Linked DNA regions of Homo sapiens: regions 2 and 3 are each linked to region 1. The links come from fine-mapping of genetic effects on gene expression. A gene starts in region 1. Each other region holds a variant in brackets. All regions are shown on one strand. Distances are from middle to middle.

Region 1 (6,326 bases):
CAATACATGTTAAATATACATTGGTTCAGTTCAGAAAGATGGGACAACTCAGAGGTGGGGGTGGGGGGATGGACCTGCTGTCACATTGGTATCTTACTGCTACAAAGTGTGTCAGTGTTAAGGTCTCTGTTTTTTTTTTTTTTCCTGAGACAGAGTCTCGCTTTGTCACCCAGGCTGGAGTGCAATGGCATGATCTCAGCTCACTGCAACACCCACCTTCCAGGTTCAAGCGATTCTCCTGCCTCAGCCTCCCAAGTAGCTGGCATTACGGGCCCACCGCTTTGCCTGCCTAATTTTTGTGATTTTACTAGAGACAGGGTTTCACCATGTTGGCCAGGCTGGTCTTGAACTCCTGCCCTTAAGTGATTCACCTGCCTTGGCATCCCAAAGGGCTGAGATTACAGGCATGAGCCACTGCAACTGGCCTCAGGTTTACTTTAGAATGCCCTTGGCTGAGAGGATGGGCCTATTCAGTTGGTTGGGGGGCTTAGAATTTTATTTTCGTTTTATAGTAAGAAGCCAAAGGACACAACAGAGTGAAAAGGCAACCCACTAAGAGGGAGAAGATGGGGCCGGGCATGGTGGCTCATGCCTGTAATCCCAACACTTTGGAAGGCTGTGGCAGGAGGATCACTTGAACCCAGGAGTTTGACACCAGCCTGGGCAATACAGGGAGACCCTGTCTCTAAAAAAAAAAAGAAAAGAAAAAGTGGGAGAAGATATTTGCAAATCCTATCTGATAAGGTGGTTAATATCCAGAATATATAAGGAACCAAAACACAACAAAAACCCATTAAAAAATGGGCAAAGCCAGGAGTTCAAGGCTGCAGTGGGCCATGATCATGACACTGCACTTCAGCCTGGGTGACAAAGCGAGACCCTGTCTCTTAACAAAACAAAATAAAACAAACAAAACAAATGGGTAAAGGACTTGAATAGACATTTCTCCAACAAACATATACAAATGGCATGACCAATAAGCACAAGAAAAGATGCTCAACATCACTGGTCATTAGCGAAAGGCAAATCAAGACCACAGTGAGATACCTCACACCTATTAAGATGGCTACTATACAAAAATAAAAAGATGTCAGTGGAGATGTGGGGAAATTGGAACTTGTGCACTCTTGGAGGGAATGTAAAATGTTGCAGCCACTATGGAAAAGAGAATGGCAGTTCCGCCGGGCGCAGTGGCTCATGCGTGTAATCCCAGCACTTTGGCAGGTCGAGGTGGGTGGATAACGAGGTCAGGAGTTCGAGACCAGCCTGGTCAACATAGTGAAACCCCATCTCTACTAAAAATACAAAAATTAGCCAGGCATGGTGGCAAACGCCTGTAGTCACAGCTACTCAAGAGGCTGAGGCAGGAGAATCGCTTGAACCCGGGAGGCAGAGGTTGTGGTGAGCCGAGATCGTACCACTGCACTCCAGCCTGGGCAACAAGAGTGAAACTCCATCTCAAAAAAAAAAAAAGTACGGCAGATCCTCAAAAAATTAAAAATAGAATTACTACATAATCCAGCAATTCCACTTGTGTATATATATTCAGGAGTTGAAAGCAACAGATATTTGAACATCTGTGTGTATACCCAAAAGGGTTAAAAAACAGATATTTGTATATCCATGTTTACAGTATTATTTCACAGTAGCCAAAAGTGGAAACAACCTGTTATCCATTAACAGATGACTGAATGAACTGGTATATACATAAAATGGAATACTATTCAGCCTTAAAAGAAATTCTGACACGTTACCACATGGATGAACCTTGAGGACATTATGGTAAGTGAAATCAGTTACAAAAAGACAAATGCTGTATGAGTCCTTATATGAAATACCTAGAGTAGTCAAATTCATAAAGACAGAAAGAATGGTAGTCGCTGGGAAGGAGGGAGGGGAAGAATGAGGCGTTACCACTTACTGGGTACAGAGTTTCAGTTTTGCAAGATGAGTGCTGGAGATGGATGGTGGTAATGGTTGCATAACAATGTGAATGTATCTAATACCACTGAATTGTACCTTTAAAAATGGTTAAGATAGTAAATTTTACCATCTTCACAGTTTCCCGAGATTGCAAGGCCAGCAGTTAAAGACAAAAACAAAACTACTTCCAACTGCCCTACAGTGTGCAGACCTTTCCCTTGTCCTGCCCTGAGTAGAACTACAGTTGTCATTCGTGATCCTCCCTTTAAAAAATTATGCTTGTGGCTAGGCGCGGTGGCTTACACCTGTAATCCCAGCATTTTGGGAGGCCGAGGCGGGCGGATCACCTGAGGTCAGGAGTTCGAGACCAGCCTAGCCAACATGGTGAAACCCTGTCTCTGCTAAAAATACACATTAGCTGGATGTGGTGGTGCGCGCTTGTAGTCCCAGCTGCTCGGGAGGCTGAGAGAGGAGAATTGCTTGAACCCGGGAGGCAGAGGTTGCAGTGAGCCGAGCCGAGATCGCGCCACTGCACTCCAGCCTGGGCAACACTGTGAGACTCTGCCTCAAAAAAAAAAAAATCATGCTTGCGTTTCATGGCGAATGTTACACATTCAAACTTATCAAATATATTAATAGTAAGAAAATAGGTTTCCTATCCGTTGTATATATTTGAGTTCCAGGCGAGATTTCCTTCGCAGAAAGAGTTCCGCAGATGAAAAGTAAAAGAAAATCCGCGGCGAAAATAACCCGCGCGCAGAGGCCGGTCCCGCTACTAGCCCCGCCCAATCAACGAGGCCAATCAGCGGCCCGCAACGGGGGAGGGACACGCAGCCGTCAGCCGAACAATTCGATGACGAGGCCCAGGAAGCACGCTGAAACCCTGGGCGGCGGCAAGCTGTGCGACCTCTTCTGCGGCCGGCCTGGGCAGGTGTCTTCCTCGAGAGGCAGGCAGGGGATCCCGGACGTGAGTCCGTGCAGTTGGGTGTGTTGTGCGGCGGGTGGGGCGGGTTACCCGCCGTTACGCCCTGGCGGGTCCAGCGGACTCGCGGCGCAGACGCTGGGGAGGCCGCAGGCGCGACCCGGGGCGGGGACCGTGCTAGCTGCGTGCGTCCGCTGCGGCCTGTGGGTGCCCCGGGCTCCTACCTCAGCTCCCGCGCCGGCGGCTGCCTGTCCGCCGCGGTTGCGCGCGTTCCGGGGAGGTGCTTGGCCCAGAGAGCGGCCTACGGAGAAGGCACAGCGAGGGCAAAGCGAGACCTGAGCGCACGTTGAATTCTGTTGGCTTTGGTTATCTCTGAAAACTTTAAGCATAATTTGAATAAATGCTGTCAGCAGAATAGCTCGGATTTAGTTGTAGTTAATTTTCTAAAACTTCAAATCTGTGAATTAACACAGTTAACAACAACAACAAAAACGGACACAAAACAACCTCCAAAATGGATTTTTTTTTTTTTTTTGAGACGGAGTCTTGCTGTGTCACCCAGGCTGGAGTGCGGTGGTGCTATCTCCGCTCACGGCAACCTCCGCCTTCCGGGTTCCAGCGATTCTCCTGCCTCAGCCACCTGAGTAGATGGGACCACAGGTGCGCGCCACCAGGCCCGGCTAATTTGTAAATTTTATTTGTAGAGAAGGGGTCTCCCTGTGTTGTCCAGGCTTGTCTCTGACTCCTGGGCTCAAAGGATCTTCCCATCTTGGCCTCCCAAAGTGCTGGGATTACAAGCGTGAGCCATTGCGCCTGGCTCCAAATCTGATTTGAGTGTAAAAAGTTAGACACACCATAAGCTGTAGGTTTATTACTGGGTGGTGAAAAACAATTCAGGTTTTCTTTATAATAGTGATTATGAAGTGTTCTTCCCAGACTAGCTTTATCGTCATCTGGGAAATTGTTAAAAATGCAAATTCGCAAGTTTGAGAGCCATGGTTCCAAGAAACTGCATAAGCATACGAAATAAGTTGCAGCCTCCCGACTTATACCCTGGTACTTCTAGTCTAAAACAGGATTTGACTCTACTAATCCAGGTTAGTCTTGCCTTTCCCATTACTCATGTGCTTTCGTTGAAACCAAAGACTTTTTCTTTTGTGCCCATTTCTACTCACTGCCTGGCCGTCTGCACGACGATCTGTGTTTCCTGGTAGTTCTCCAGTCTAGTAGCTACTATAAACTACTCTCCCTATTTCCCGCTCTGTGGAGATGTCGTTCCAACAGGTCCTCTCCACTCTAAGACCCTATCCTCTCAGAGAAGCCCCTGAGAGCCATTAGTACTTTTGCCCTGGAGAGGCAGTTTAGGTAGAGCCAGTCTGGGTTCTACCACTTACTAGCTTGGTGGTCTTAGGCAAGTTACTTTGTGTGATCTGTAAAATGAAGATGAGTGAAGATAAGAGTACTACTTCCAGTAGTTTTGTGAGGATTAAATTAATGTAACAGTGCTTAGCACATAGTAACAAAATATTAGCTACTTTTTTTTTTTTAGACGGAGTTTTGCTCTTGTTGCCCAGGCTGGAGTGCAATGGCGCGATCTCGGCTCACCGCAACCTGCACTCTCTGGGTTCAAGCAATTCTCCTGCCCCAGCCTCCCGAGTAGCTGGGATTACAGGCATGCGCCACCACGCCCTGCTACTTTTGTATTTTTAGTAGAGACAGGGTTTCTCCATGGTGGTCAGGCTGGGCTGGAGCTCCCAACCTCAGGTGATGCGCCCGCCTTGGCCTCCCAAGGTGCTGGGATTACAAGCGTGAGCCACCGTGCCCGGCCTTTAGCTACTATTATACATATTATAATTTAAAAATTATTAGTACCGAAGCCTGAGACAGGAGAGAAATGGTAAAAATAGTAGGGACTGCGGGAGAGAGAAAGAGTAGTGTCCCCTGACAAGTACTAGAATGACATAGGTGCCACCATTAAACGAAACTAGCTAGGATGGTTACTTTCGATTAACACTTTGCTACTCAAGAGTGTGGTCTGCGGCATCACCAGGAGCTTGTTAGAAGTGGAGATCTCAGACCTACCTCAGATTTACTGAATCAGAATCGTTTTTTTTTTTTTTTAACAAACTCTTCAGCAGGTTTAGATGTAGCTTTGTTTGGAGGAAGTGTGAGATTCGTTTTAGGATTTCTCAAGGAGTTCCAGCCTTCAATCAGTGACCATGGGGATCTGGCAGGAGGGCTTGAATTTCTAGCTGATTCTTCTATTCTGTCTTACCCTCCTGTCTTCCATCATTTCTGCATTGCTAATCTCTATCCCTGGAGAAATCTATGGAACTGCTGGTTATTACTGTAGAAAGTAACATAGTTGCCAATAGTACGACTTTGTGGATGTCACAGTCAAAACTCAACTGCCTGGCTGGCACAGTGGCTCACCTGTAATCCCAGCACTTTGGGAAGACAAGGCGGCGGGCAGGGGGATCCTTTGAGCTCAGGAGTTCGGGACTAGCCTGGGCAACATAGCAAGACCCTGTCTCTATAAAAAAGAAAAAAAAATCTCAACTGCTTGACAGGCTTTTTATTCACTTCCCTTTGTATAATGCCTCCTGTAGTACCTTTTTTCCCCTCCAAATCTCCGTTTCCCCCATCCTAACCTCCTCACAGTGTTAGAAATGCAAATTACTCTTAATTTCTCTGTCCACTTCATATCATATTATAATATGAAATCTGTCAGTTTCTCTTTTTACTTTAGAAATTTTGTCTTCATCCATCTTCATTCATTTCTATTTATGGAGTATATAACCTCATTGCCTATGAAGAACCCTTCCCGTAACCTTAATTTCATGCACTCCCATCTTGGAGCCTCTCTCCAGTTTACACACTCCCTTTGTCACCTACTTCTTAACCACTTAGAGAATTAGGCTTCTCACTGTCATTCTCTGAAAGGTCATAAATGGCCAACTAATTAACCAATCCAATGGCTTTTTTCCAGACTTTGTTCCTCTCCACTTCTCTGAAGTATTGAATACGCTTGATACCACTTTCTTGAAATTAAGTCCCTCCTTAGTTTTTGCCCATTGCATATTTTGGCTTGTCTTCTATTGCCCTGATTAGCCTTCACTCTCCTCTCTGGTATTTGCTTCTTCCATGGCTTTCTTCCTTAGTTGAACTCTTAATTTTTTCCAATAAAGTATACAGTTATTCAGTATTTCTAAGTATCTCCAGAGCATAACAGTGATTTTAGTGTTTTTTGTTTGTTTGTTTGTTTTTTAATTGAGTCAGGGTCTTGCTCTGTCACCCATGCTGGAGAGCAGTGGCGTGATCTCGGCTCAGTGCAGCTTCAACCTCCCCGGCTCAAGTGATCCTCCCACCTCAGCCTCTCCAAGTAGCTGGAAATATAGACGTATGCCACCACACCCAGCTAAATTTTGTTTCAAGTTTTGTAGAGATGGAATCTCCCTAAGTTGCCCAGGCTGGTGTCGAA
Region 2 (7,011 bases), 23 kb after region 1:
TCAAGACTAGCCTGGCCAACATGGTGAAACCCTGTCTCTACTAAAAATACAAAAATTAGCTGGGCCTGGTGACGTGCACCTGTAGTCCCAGCTACTCAGCAGGCTGAGGCAGGAGAATTGCTTGAACCTGAGAGGTTGCAGTGAGCCAAGATTGCGCTGCTGCACTCCAGCCTGGACCACAGAGTGAGGTCTGTCTCAAAAACAAGGAAGAAAAAAAAAAGAATAAAGCTATGTGGATACATTTAAAAATTATCATGTAGGTAATTTAGAGTATGTCATTCTATGTCTTTGCTAGAAATGATACCAAAATATTATTTTTTAAAAATTAGGTTATTTTTTGAATAAGTGGTATATTCATGGCAGAGAATTTAGAAAAGGCAGATACAAGGAAATTAATTTTTAAAATAACCTATAATTTTATCACCTAGAGAAAATCTGTCAGTAGTTTAAGGTATTTCTTTCTAGATTTTTCTAGATTTTAATTATCTTTCAAAGTTGGGATCATACTGTATATAGAAATTGGAAAGGACCACTACTGTTCCCATCAACATAGCATAAATAATAATCATTGAAAGAAAATTTTAGATCTTTCTAGCAGAGTGAGTCAAGTAGCCAAGTATTTTCAATGATTTCATCTGGTTAAAGCATTGTGACATTTCCTTAACCTTTTGCTGTAAGTATTATAGTATTTAGAACTAATTATTTACAAATTAAACACAGATTCTGTGTGGAAGGAAAGTTGCTTGAGTATTGTCACCTTAATGATTGTATATTGGTCATTGTACTGGAAATTATCCAGTGCAAAATAGGATATCATCAACTATAAAAGAAAATAAGAAGTAGTCATTTAATTTGTATGGCTAGAACTAATTGTTGTTGTTGTTGCTGTTGTTTTTGAGACAGTCTCACTCTGTCCCCCAGGCTGGAGTGCAGTAGTGAAATCTCGGCTCAATGCAACCTCCACCTCCCGGGTTCAAGCGATTCTCTTGCCTCAGCCTCCTATCTGGGACTACAGGCCCGTGCTATCACGCCTGGCTGAACTAATTTTTAAAAACAATATTTTTAGTAAAGTTTCCCTTTTTCATTATAATTACTTACAGAGAAGGCAATTGTAGTTAGTACTTTATGCTTACTTGTTGCATTAAGGCTGTACTTTTCCATGAACTGGAAATAGCTACTCTTTACAAATAATATGTTTTCCTATAATCCTAGCACTTTGGGAGGCTGAGGCGGGCGGATCACTTGAGGTCAGGAGTTCAAGACCAGCCTGGCCAACATGATGAAACCCCGTCTCTACTAAAAATACAAAAATTAGCTGGGCGTGGTAGCGGGCACCTTTAATCCCAGCTACTCGGGAAGCTGAGGCAGGAGAATCGCTTGAACCCGGGAGGTGGTGGTTGCAGTGAGCCGAGATTGTGCCACCGCACACCAGCGTGGGTGACAGGGCGAGACTCCGTCTCAGGAAAAAAAGAGAAAAAATAGTAATAATAATATGTTTTTTTTTAATTAAAAATTTATAACAGTCTGGTTTGGATGAATGGTAAAGACACTCTTTGAATGAAGGTCTTTTGGATGTGTAGGCCTAACCTTCATAGGTAACGGCCTCTCCTGGTTCCCTTTTGGTGTTGGGCAGCTAGCTTTTGCACAGCATCAGGCTGAAGTCGCCAAGATGGAGCCATTAAACAATGTGTGTGCCAAAAAGATGGACTGGACTGGAAGTATCTGGGGTAAGGTGTTTGTGCACTTGTCCTTATTTTGAATAGAAATTCTGAGAATGAAAGAACATAGAACAAAGAGAATGATAAAATAACAGGAGGCTTTCCATGACTGAATCTTTAATATCAGAAGAACATGCAAGAAGCATTTTAGGTTTAAAACCAGTGACTTTTTATGCTCATCTAAAGTCACAGGGAAGGAATAGAAGTTGTATATATGTTGGCTCTGATATTATCTGTCTTCCTTCATAAGACTGTGTGAAGGATCCTATGCTCGCTTTTGTTCATCTCGTTCTTTGCACAGGGTCTGGCATATTCTCAATAGAAGTTTATTAAACAAGTGAATGAATGTATATATGAATTAATATCCATCTTAAATTTAATGGCCTTATATTGACTTGTGAAATTTTATGTTGTAGCTTTACTTTTTTTTAACTACGGGAAAAATTAGTTTTTTTATTCTTTCACATTTTATAAACATTCTCATGAATGTTCACTACCTTTGGTTGTATGTATCTAGCAATGGGGATGGTTTAATAATGTTCCAAGGCATTTTATAAATGCAAGTCCATGACTGACACGGAATTCTGCAGATGGAATCCAAAATAAATGTTTCTTAAAAAGTTGTGGGAACTAAACCAATTCAGCCTTCCTTCCTGGCTTCAGTGGACAGTGAAATGCCTCCTCTAGCTCAGGCTAGTTTCCCAACGTATATAAGCCTGATTTGGAAAAATTAGAACTAATATTCCACTTTATTTTGTAAACTCCATAAAGAACTGACTTTTTAAATTAAAAATTTACTGAGGTAATTGTGGATTCACACAGTAAGAAATACTACAGAGAGAGCCCGTGTACCCTTTCCCCATTTTCCTCCAGTGGTGACATCTTGCACAGCTTTAATAGTACAATATCAGAGCCAGGATATTGACTTTGATACAATCCACCAGTCTTATTTCGACTTCCCATTTTACCTGTACTCATTTGTGTTTGTGAAGCATTGCTTTTAAAGTGTTTACCTTTTAGACATTTTTATAAAATACAATTTTTTATCTGCATAAAACATGTATAATTTGAATGGATTTTTAAAACATGATTTTGGACATAAGATGAAAAATTTAAAAATCAGCATTACAGGGAGTCTACTTAAAACTTAAGATAATTTAAAACTCATTGGTGGGTGGTCAGGGAGGGTCAAAACCAAAGTAATGTCTTGTTTGGGAATGAAATGCAACATTAAAAGAAATGATCAGTGTTTTGTCTGTTTCTCTAAACAGAATGGTTTAGAAGTTCATGGACCTATAAGGATGACCCATGCCAAAAATACTATGAGCTCTTACTAGTCAACCCTATTTGGTTGGTCCCACCAACAAAGGTATAGCATATATTTTGTAAAAATTACTTAAAGTCAGTCAGAAATCCCTTGTATTTTAAAGAACTTTAGTGTTTGAGTCATTTTGCTAATAAGCGTTTGTCCAAGAAAAAATACTTTTGCACAGTGATTTTCACATTAAAAATGGCACAACAGCATTTTAATTTATGTAACATACTTTCAGCATCAGTACTCAATGAATTTTGATGCATTCTGTACCTTAGTCCTGTGAGGAGAAAATTAAGTTGCTTTTCTCTCGTTTTAGGCACTTGCAGTTACATTCACCACATTTGTAACGGAGCCATTGAAGCATATTGGAAAAGGAACTGGGGAATTTATTAAAGCACTCATGAAGGAAATTCCAGCGCTGCTTCATCTTCCAGTGCTGATAATTATGGCATTAGCCATCCTGGTTAGTATTAATATATTAGCACTGTCGGGCCAGGC[G/A]CGGTGGCTCACGCCTGTAATCCCAGCACTTTGGGAGGCCTAGGCGGGCGGATCACGAGGTCAGGAGATCGAGACCATCCTGGCTAACACAGTGAAACCCTGTCTCTACTAAAAAAAATACAAAAAATTAGCCGGGCGTGGTGGCGGGCGCCTGTAGTCCCAGCTACTCGGGAGGCTGAGGCAGGAGAACGGGGTGAACCTGGGAGGCGGAGCTTGCAGTGAGCCGAGATCGCACCACTGTACTCCAGCCTGGGCGACAGAGCAAGATTCCGTCTCAAAAAAAAAAAAAAATTATACATATATGTATATTTATATATCTATCTATATATATTTATATTTATATATCTGTCTATATTTATATATTTATTATATATAATATATATTTATATATTATATATTTATATTTATATATATATATGCACTGTCAGTATTTAGCAAGATTTATATTAAATCTTAGTATTAATATTAGTAATACTGGTTAGTATTAAATATTAGCACTGTCAATATTTAGCAAGATTTACAGAAAAAAAGGCAATGCTAAAATTATTGGGCTTCTTTGATGTTGTAAATCAGGCTAAGTCACGCTTAATGAGAAGGCGATTTTTAAGTGATACAGATTTTTTTCCTCCCCTCTGCCCCTCTAAATGATACAGACATATTATACTTACTTGTATATTTTTATAATCAAGAAAGTAGTTCTCTAGTTTGATTGCATATGTCATAGCAGTGATTTAGAATAATAACCTCTTTTTAAATGTGTTAACCTTGGTAAATTAATACACAGGAAATAGGAAGTTGATTTCTGTCTCCCAGAAAGGGGGACTTCTTATTTCTAGTCAGTTTTTGCAGCAGTGAGAAGGGTAGAGCATTGAGTTTGACACAGAACCAGAAAGGGATGTGGAAGAACATGGGTATGCTGAGAAAGAGTTTGGGGATCCAGGAGCAGACATTAAGAAGAAATATTACTCGTCATCCCTCCATGGTCTATTCAGTGTTTTTTGTTATCGATTTTTTAGCTATTACCCAAGTAAAGCAGTTGTCGCATAAAACAAAAAGAACTCAGATGTGCCAAGGGAAATTCTCTTCCCTAAGGATACAAGATTCACTATCTCTGTTCACTTTGAAATCGTTTCTTTTTTGGTTTTGTTTTTTGGCTTGTGATTACAGGATTATGTGGTTGACGGGTATTTTTTTGTTAGGTGACATTAGTTCTATAGTCATAGTTTAGTCTCTGAAACTGAAATTATCAGCAGAGTCTTCACCATCTGTTTTTGTTTCATGTGCTCCCTCAGGAAAGTTATGCTCTTTGACTTTTGCTGCTTTTGTCTTCAAATAGTAGTGTTTGAAAAACTAGTACAGAAATTTTCAAAGTTTCTGTTCTCAGGACCTCTTTGCAGTCTTAAAAATTGAAGCCCACAAACAGCTCTTACTTAAGGTGATTATATTTATTGATACTTACATATTAGGAGTTAAAACAAATTTAAAACATACGAGTACTGTACACGCAAGCATGCATCCCCTGAGTCTGAGTGAGGCTGTCACTCTAGCATCTGGAATGCTCCGTTGTATATTCAGGAGGGGACAGTGAAAAAGACAAATAATAATGTCTTTGTATTATGAAAAGTTTTGATCTCATAGATCTCCTGAAAGTCTCAGGTATCCCCCGGGGGTCCCTGGGCCACACTGTAAGGAACTGCTGCCTACTTTTTCCCATGGAATGTGAATCAAAACCTGTTGAATTTTAGCTGTAACTTAAGCCTAGTTTATATTTGTAAAAAGAAAATGTACAGAAGATTGTTTACATAATGATATACAACTTTAAATATTTTCAGCATTTACCTTATATGATGGGCATGAATCTAGAAACATGAATAATTATCAGACTAGAACCTTCTAATTTAAATATCTAGGCTTCAGCCTGCCATTGTTATAGTTCAATCGAAATGTGTCTAGCTGATTAAAATGTCTACTGAAAGATTTATTAAGTTTTATTGGCCACTCTGGCCTTGTATTAATCTAAAGAGGTCTCTAATGAAAAAAAGTCAAATTAACATGTTTATGTCTATAAATGCCACAAGTAAGTTAAATTACATAACTTTGTTAGCACTCTGAATAAAATGCCTCATAACTTTTGTAAGTTAGCCATTGAGTCCTCAGGAAAATGTATTTCTTTTCCTTACAGAGTTTCTGCTATGGTGCTGGAAAATCAGTTCATGTGCTGAGACATATAGGCGGTCCTGAGAGCGAACCTCCCCAGGCACTTCGGCCACGGGATAGAAGACGGCAGGAGGAAATTGATTATAGACCTGATGGTGGAGCAGGTGATGCCGATTTCCATTATAGGGGCCAAATGGGCCCCACTGAGCAAGGCCCTTATGCCAAAACGTATGAGGGTAGAAGAGAGATTTTGAGAGAGAGAGATGTTGACTTGAGATTTCAGACTGGCAACAAGAGCCCTGAAGTGCTCCGGGCATTTGATGTACCAGACGCAGAGGCACGAGAGCATCCCACGGTGGTACCCAGTGTAAGTCAGCAACTCTTTTATTCTGCTGTCCCTTCATTACTGGTTCTAAATCCTTCTGGAAGAGGTCTGATTGTTTTTACTCTTTTACCCCTCACCCTTAATTATATCATGAGTGATACAGCCACTCACTCTCTCCCCTTTCTGGTCAAAAGTTAGTTCAGCTTCCTCAGAAGAAATAAAATTAGATTTAACTTTTATGTAAAATACAATTTAACAGTAGTTTGTTAGAGCAGATGGTAATTCATATGAACCTTCATGGGAAGCCAGCGTATGAGCATGACAGAAATTTCTATCTTTGAAGAGATCAGAGAGAAGGCATCACTGAAGGCCCGGAGCTCTAGGGAAGGTACAGTAGAGCCCTAAAGGATTAGCTGGATGGAAGAGTGGGCTGGGGCCAGGGATCAAAAACATTGCTTCCCCAAATCTTCAGTGTCATTGGCTGGCTAGACTATACTTTTTACCTGTAGAATGGTAAGAAGAAGTTTTTCACCATTATCAGTCTTTTAAAGGGACATTTCCATTTCTGTTTGAGAGAGGAATTTGTATTGTCATTTGAAATGTTTAAATTGCAGCTGTTAAACCTTTGAAACAGTTATGAGCATAATAGAATCTGGGAAATTATAGAATCCCTTCCCATAGTTTCATATAAAAATAAACATATCTACATGTATCTAGAAAGATGGACCAGGCGCGGCGGCTCACGCCTGTGATCCCAGCACTGGGAGGCCGAGGCAGGCGGATCACTGGAGGTCTGCAGTTCAAGACCAGCCTGGCCAACGTGGCAAAGCCCCATCTCTACTGAAAATACAAGAAAATTAGCCAGGCGTGATGTGGTATGCACCTGTAATCCCAGCTACTTGGGAGGCTGAGACAGGAGAATTGCTTGATTCCAGGGGGCGGAGGTTGCAGTGAGCCGAGATCGTGCCATTGCACTCCAGCCTGGGTGACAGAGTGAG
Region 3 (7,011 bases), 140 kb after region 1:
AAGCCTCATCCCTCTTCTCAGGGCTGATTTCTTCCCATTCCTAAGGACGAAATCTTCCAGAGCTAACAAGCTGTAAATCATGTAAAATCCTCAGGAGAAATCCTTTGTTTTTGAAACACCCATTGGTGCAACTATTAATCTGTGTCGATTCAGTATCATTTATTTGAAGCTTCTTTCAGGTAGCGAGAGATGTTACCTCTAAGCTCACTGTGGACTCCGGCCAAAGCTCGGCTCATTGACCTTTGGAAGGTCAAGAGTCAGGGAGGCAGCAGGTGTTTAGCAACCACTGTTATATGTACGTAATGGATTCTAATAGAAGCAGATGACAGGGTCTGAAAGACTGAGGCTTCCTGTTAGAAAGCATTCCATTGTGGGAATGGGCACCTGCCTTAAGAGTTCTAATGAGTGTCCACCCCTGAAAAAAGAAACTGCATGAAGCTCGTGCTAAAAATGGTCATGTGTCATTGTGTGTGGGTCATTAAACCACCATGTCAGTCATCAGCTTTGAGCTGCCCTTTAATCCAAGGGGCACTCATGAAGCTTACTCACTGAGTCATCCCAGGCCTACTATTTTTATTTATTGAATTAAAGTCTAATTTTGGATTTTTAAAGGTTTTACTAAGTATAATGAAAGTATTTTGACATTAAAGAACCATTTTTATTAAGCACTCAAGGTACTAAATTTCTCTCTTCTAAATTCCTAGTCTAGACCCTACAGAAGTACATTAAGTACCAAGACAGGGACCAATGTTCCAGACTAAATAATACTTTTTTATGATAGACAAGCTGGAAAGACAAGCACAACCAAGTGTAAAATCAAATCTCACAGTGAATCCACTGCTGGGGAGTGATGAGAAGATACACATGACTTATGAATTAAAATCTTGTAACTTACATAATCCCTGAGGAATTATTGATTGAAGGGAGGACTATATATTCTTTCTGTTAGAAGATTAAATCTCTCTCTGATGGGACTTGTCCTTTATGAAGCTTGCTGAGGTACATACTGTTTTCAGGATATTTGTAAATTGTTTATATATAAGTGGATAAATTACATATGTATAAAATGTAAAATATGCTTATCCCTTTATGTTATTTCTGATGCAAAACTTTGGATTTAAGTGTGTACTTTAGCTGCTTTGTCTTGTTGAAAAACTGTCTTCTCCAGAGGAATTATGTTTGGCCAGAAGATTTGAGTACACAAAGGAGTTTAAAAGCAGAAAAAGTCCTGTGTTGGACTGCATGCACTTGAGTGAGATCCAAGTTTCCCACTTTGGAGAGCAGATGTTCAAATGCCCCAGAGGAGAAGGGTGGAGACAGAAAATGAGGTGTGAGAAAATATGTGACTCAAGAGGACAGCATGTTTTTCCAAGAGGAGGGAAAGAGCCTGGCTTCTCAGCCCCAGCCCCACAAACCCGCAGCCCCATCCCTTCTCCGCCAACAGCAGGCCAGGGCACAGCGCGGCGAGCATGTGTTTGCCCAGCAATGCCTTGGGCTCAAACCCTAGCCCTGGGCAATCTGCCTCATTTATGCCAGGATATCTCGGGCACAGTGCCTTCCATACTAAGAATGAACAACTTTCCCTGGGGGCTATGACTGTATCCCAGGAGCTTAGCAAGAGCTTTGTTCAGAACTGTTATTAATTCGAATTCCTTTGGAGGAGTTGGGATTTCTGAGGAGGAGGGAGGAAGCTGCAGGTGGGCCACAGGAAGGCTCCTGAACAATGTCCATTGCAGTTGCTTCTTTCTGACGCCACCTGGTGGCCATGTGCAACTAAAATCACCTTCACGTGCTCCCTCAGCCTTTAGTCCCACAGACACCCGGCAAAGCCCACTTTGCTGGAGTTGTTGGATGTAATCAGCTTGTACTTCCAGGACCAAAGCTACGTGACCCATTACTGACGTATAGCATAGTTTCTTCCCCTGGTAGGAACTGTTTGTTTGTTTGTTTGTTTGTTTGTTTGTTTTTGAGATGAGGTTTTGCCATGTTGCCCTGGCTGACCTTGAACTCCTAGTCTCAAGCCATCCACCCTCCTTGGCCTCCCAAAGTGCTGGGATTACAGGCATGAGCCACCATACCCAGCCTGGAATGGATTTTGATGCATGAGGAAAACTCCAAATTTTATAATTCCATACTTCAAATGTGTTTTGTGAATGTGTATGTGATGATTAGATATTAACCTCGGCAGAACAAAACATTTATTTTTCATGTCTTGTATACATTTTCTTTTTTTTTTTTTTGAGTAGGAGTCTCGCTCTGTCACCCAGGCTGGAGTGCAGTGGCGCGATCTCGGCTCACTGCAAGCTCCGCCTCCCGGGTTCCCGCCATTCTCCTGCCTCAGCCTCCCGAGTAGCTGGGACTACAGGCACCCACTACGGCGCCCAGCTAATTTTTTGTACTTTTAGTAGAGACAGGGTTTCACCGTGTTAGCCAGGATGGTCTCGATCTCCTGACCTCGTGATCCGCCCGCCTCAGCCTCCCAAAGTGCTGGGATTACAGGCGTGAGCCACCGCGCCTGGCCTGTCTTGTATACATTTTCTTATCAGGCCAAATTGTGCTGGGGTGCAATTTCTTGTAGAAAAGCTCTCAAACAGGCAGGCAGAGGAGAGCTCTGTGTAGAGGATGACAAGCCCCTCCTACACTGTTCCAGGCTCTAATATAACAAAATTTAACGTTTCAACTTTACCAAAACTTTCCCTATCTATTGGAAATGCACTAAAAGTTTACAGGATCTTATGCACCTTTTTTTAGGAAGCAAAACGTGGAGAAAAAGGGCCACGGAAGGATCAACTGTGGAAGATTTTCAATTGTCCTTCATGAAAAGGCACCACACTCAGATTCAACTCCCAGTAAGTTGATGGGCTTGGGCTGGGTGCTCATTTTTCAGTGTCCCTCCCCATGGGGTCTGCTCGCAGTAGGCACCAGCTTGCCATCTGCCACTCCAAGAGCATTTCCCTACACTAGGATGTTGCATGTTGTATTTATTTATTTGCAAAATGTAAAGAATTAATAGGCTGGGCATGGGGGCTCATGCCTGTAATTCCAGCACTTTGGGAGGCTGAGGCGGGTGGATCACTTGAGCTCAGGAGTTCAAGACCAGCCTGGCCAACATGGTGACATTCCATCTGTACAAAAAAAATACAAAAATTAGCCAGGTGTGGTGGCTCACGCCTGTAGTCCCAGCTACTTGGGAGACTAAGGTGGGAAGATTGCTTGAGTCCGGGAGGTTGAGGCTGCAGTGAGCCATGATCATGCCACCGTACTCCAGCCTGGGCGACAGAGTAGGACCCTGTTTCAAAAAAAAAAAAAAA[G/A]AAAAAGAAAAGAAAAGAAAAAAAGAATCACTTTCAATAAGATGTGGTTAAGTAGAGTAAAGCATGAACACCTGTTTCTAGCTGAAAATGAAGGACTCCATGGACTCAATCACAAGATGTCATTCAGTCTGTCCATCCTCATCCTTCCCACATGACCCATAACTGTACCTGGTAAGGTTACTGGCTACGTGAGAATTGCTGCTGCTTTGGATATATGCATTTCATAGAAGCAAAGAAAGTTGGAGCTGGGAGGTGCCCCAGTACACGCAATTCAATGGCTTTTAGTCATAAGATCCTTTTTTTCAAAGATAGTTTAAGGAGAGAAACATCTAGCAGAACTGCCCTGGGAGAAGAGGTGGGGCTGGAGGCCTCTGCTCAGGCAGCTTCTGAGCTTAAAAATCACCTCTGAGCCTAACCTACCTACCCAGCTTGTCTCCCCAGCTTATGCACCAGGAAGCTGCACTGGAGAGCTACCCAGGCTTTCTTACATCTGCACTGCCTGTGGCCCAGAGCCATGCCTCCAGCTCTGCCTTCTGTTATGTCACACTTGGTTCTGCACTGGCTTCTCTGTAGATGACACATTTCCAAATAATAATAGGGTTCATTGATTGAAGACGTATTATGCCAGATGGTATAACAAAGTAGGAGTTTTCCAGGTGTAATCGGAGGGTCCCTGGGGTTTCCTGAAACCCTTTCGGGGGGGCCACCAGGTCCTTCCTTTACCAGCCATATAGCTGTGCAACGCTAGTATTACAGGCAACTGATGGAGATGCAGTTATGGAATCCAGTTGCCTTTTATTAAGCCAGATATTCAAGATATTTGCCAAAACGTAAAATGATGCCACTCTTCTCACTAAATTTTTTAGAAATAGTTATTTTCATTAAAAACTGCTATTTTGTTAATATGACATGGATTTATTACTTTTTAAATGCCATAATAAATAAAATTATCTTTTAAACCTCTCAGTTTAAAATTCTAAAAAAAAAGCGCCTTGGAACTGCTCATTTAGTTTTGGGAAATCTAAATGATTTGCACAAGCAAAAAATGACTAGTAATCTATACATTAGTACTTCTCTACCAATCCATCTGCAGTGGACTGAATGTTGAATGCTAGCTGTTCTCCAATGAGGGGGGATTTTCACCTCAGGTATATAAAATGGTATATATTATCATTTTATGGTAGATTAAAACCACAGAAACAAAGGCTGTTTAGGGTCCTCAATTTTAAGAGTGTAAAAGGGTTCTGGAATCAAAAGTTTGAAAACTGTTGCCAGTGTATGTCACATAACTCTCACAACATCCCTGTAATGCAGGAATGATTATCTTTATTTTATAGATAAGGAACTAGAGGCTCAGAGAAATTAAGTGACTTGACAGGACCAAAGAGTGAGTGTGAGTGAGTGTATTAGCTATCTATAGCTGTGTAACAAAGTATCCCAGAACTTAAGGCTGAAAACAACAAACATTTATCATCTTAGAGTTTCTGTGGGTCAGGAATTTGGGAGCACTTTAGCTGGGTGGTTCAGGCTCAGGGTCTCTCATGAGGTTTGGTCAAGTTGTCAGCCAAGGATGCCGTCATCTGAGGGCTTGACTGGGGCTGGAAGATCTGCTTCCAAGATGGCTCACTCACATGAGCATTGGCAGGAGGTCTCAGTTCCCTGACATGTGGGCCTCTCCAATAGGCTGCTTGAGTGTCATTATGACATGGCAGCCAGCTTCCCCCAGAGCAAGTGATCCAAGAGAGAAATACCGAGATGGAAGCTTCAGTGTCTTTCATGGCCTAGGTTTGGAAGTTATATGCCATCACTACCGCTTTATTTTATTTGTTAGAAGTGAGTCACTAAACCCAGCCTATACTCAAGGAGAGAGGAATTAGGCTCTACATTTTAAAGAGTGTCAGTTGGGTGTGGTGGCTTATGTCTGTAATCCCAGCACTTTGGGAGGCTGAACCAGGATTGCTTGAGCCCAGGAGTTCAAGACCAGGCTGGACAACATAGGGACCCAATATTTAAACATAAAAACAAAACAAAACAAAAAAAACACAGAAGGTTGAGGCTTATGATTGAGCCACTGCATTTCAGCCTGGGAGCAACAGAATGAAACCTTGGCTCAAAAAAAATAAAAATAGCACGTTAAAGAATTTGTAAACATATTTTCAACCATCATAGCTAATAAGTAGCAGAGCCAGGCTTCAACCCTGGGCCTTCAAACTCATTCCATTTGCTAATATGAAATGGATTTGTTATTATACAATGAAGTTACTATATATTGTATAATATGTTAAAAGTCAAGATGTCAGCCAGGGATGACTTCACTTTAATGTTAAAAATGAGTCTAACCATGAGTTCAGTAAGGCAAGAAGCATTGGAAGAGGCTTTGTCACTGCAGCATCTGTCCTGCAGCGAGATGTTGCTTGGACATTCAGTCCTGACATGCTCACCCGCCTGGCCCCAGGCTTTCATACTCTGGCCTTACCTGGAGTGCTGTTCCGTCCACAGCCTGCCAGACAGGTTCTAGACCTGCACCAGATACACATGCTGTCTGCTACTAGCTTCTTTGAGGCTAAGAGAGCAAAGTCATGATTCAGGTTCCCTTATAGGCTTATGAATGTCACATAGAAGAAACCCATCTTTCCAGTTGTCTGGATGACAAAATACAAGCTCTTGGCCACAGCAGGGTCTGAGAGAAAGAATGTGGATGTATCAGGCCAACTATGGAAAAACAAATACAAATACAAGGTTGTCTGATAGTTCAGTGGGCCAAATTGCCGCAGATCCATTCATTCAGCAGACCTTTACTAAGCCTAAATATGTATGCTACATCTTGAGATTTTCATACAAGAAATGTTAATTATCAAAACATTTCTCAGTTGTCAGAAGGGAATCCCAAATGTTACCCCAGGCTGGCAACTCCTCTTGGTGACACAGCCGGGACATTAAGCACTTTGGTGCCAAACACATACCCTGCACAGTTACAGCTCTGCTCTCCACACCGTATTTTATGACTATAATCAAGACACTTACCCTTCATTCATGCAACTTGGGCTTTTTCAGATTCTGATACAGGACACAGCTTCTGTTCTGATTCTGGCACTGAAATGCAGAGTAACAAATGTCAGGACTGTGGCACTAAGATTCCTACCTCCCGAAGAGCCTGCAGGAAAGAACCAACTAAAGGTAACACTCACCTGGGGCCTCAGAAAGGCGAGTGGGGACAGTCACTGTTCCCAGGCAATTAACTGTATTTTTAATCTTTTCTTCCCAGAATTTCATTATAGATACAACACTCCAGGACAGAATTACTCAAATCATAGCAAAAGAGGTGCCTTTGTCCAGCCCCATTCTTTAGATGAAAGTAAAAACTCTTCACCCTGTAAGTACATCTCCTGCATGACCCCATCCATATCAACAACCTAATGTCCCAGGTATGGGACATTCACATGACACTGGCCACTGCTTCCATCTGGGAAGCCCTGGCCTCTCCATTTTGCTGCCCAGGTCTTGTGCACTCACCTGACACTTCCAAATCCAGCCCTACATCTGGATGGCAAGAGGCTGAGCTGGGGCTGGAAAATATGAAATCGCAGTGACCAAGGACTTTGAAAGTTATTAAGGGCTACACCAGTGCAAGTTGGTAGCAACCCATAAATGTTTGCTGAACAAATAAATGACTTACTGGATAATCACTACTATTATTGTT

What was found.
Region 2: its variant is fine-mapped to the expression of CLCC1 in whole blood (TOPMed, PIP above 0.99).
Region 3: its variant is fine-mapped to the expression of CLCC1 in follicular helper T cells (Schmiedel 2018, PIP 0.91).

What each region holds. Positions count from the first base shown.
Region 1 is chr1:108,959,925-108,966,250 of GRCh38, reverse strand. CLCC1 (chloride channel CLIC like 1) reads left to right here and starts at 2,767. Exons shown (of 13, transcript NM_001377458.1): 1 at 2,767-2,890; 2 at 3,782-3,942. RefSeq lists silencers at 2,972-3,211, 3,350-3,644 and enhancers at 3,572-3,691, 4,064-4,564, 4,565-5,065.
Region 2 is chr1:108,936,121-108,943,131 of GRCh38, reverse strand. It overlaps CLCC1 (chloride channel CLIC like 1), which reads left to right. Exons shown (of 13, transcript NM_001377458.1): 8 at 1,634-1,727; 9 at 2,990-3,087; 10 at 3,350-3,496; 11 at 5,714-6,055. Among named protein-coding and RNA genes, the nearest start is that of CLCC1, 24 kb to the left of the region's middle. The variant G/A (reference allele first, on the strand shown) is at 3,532.
Region 3 is chr1:108,823,043-108,830,053 of GRCh38, reverse strand. It overlaps AKNAD1 (AKNA domain containing 1), which reads left to right. Exons shown (of 16, transcript NM_152763.5): 11 at 2,752-2,849; 12 at 6,366-6,488; 13 at 6,577-6,684. LOC105378891 (a long non-coding RNA gene) reads right to left here. Exons shown (of 5, transcript XR_947687.3): 2 at 6,336-6,404. Among named protein-coding and RNA genes, the nearest start is that of AKNAD1, 31 kb to the left of the region's middle. The variant G/A (reference allele first, on the strand shown) is at 3,312.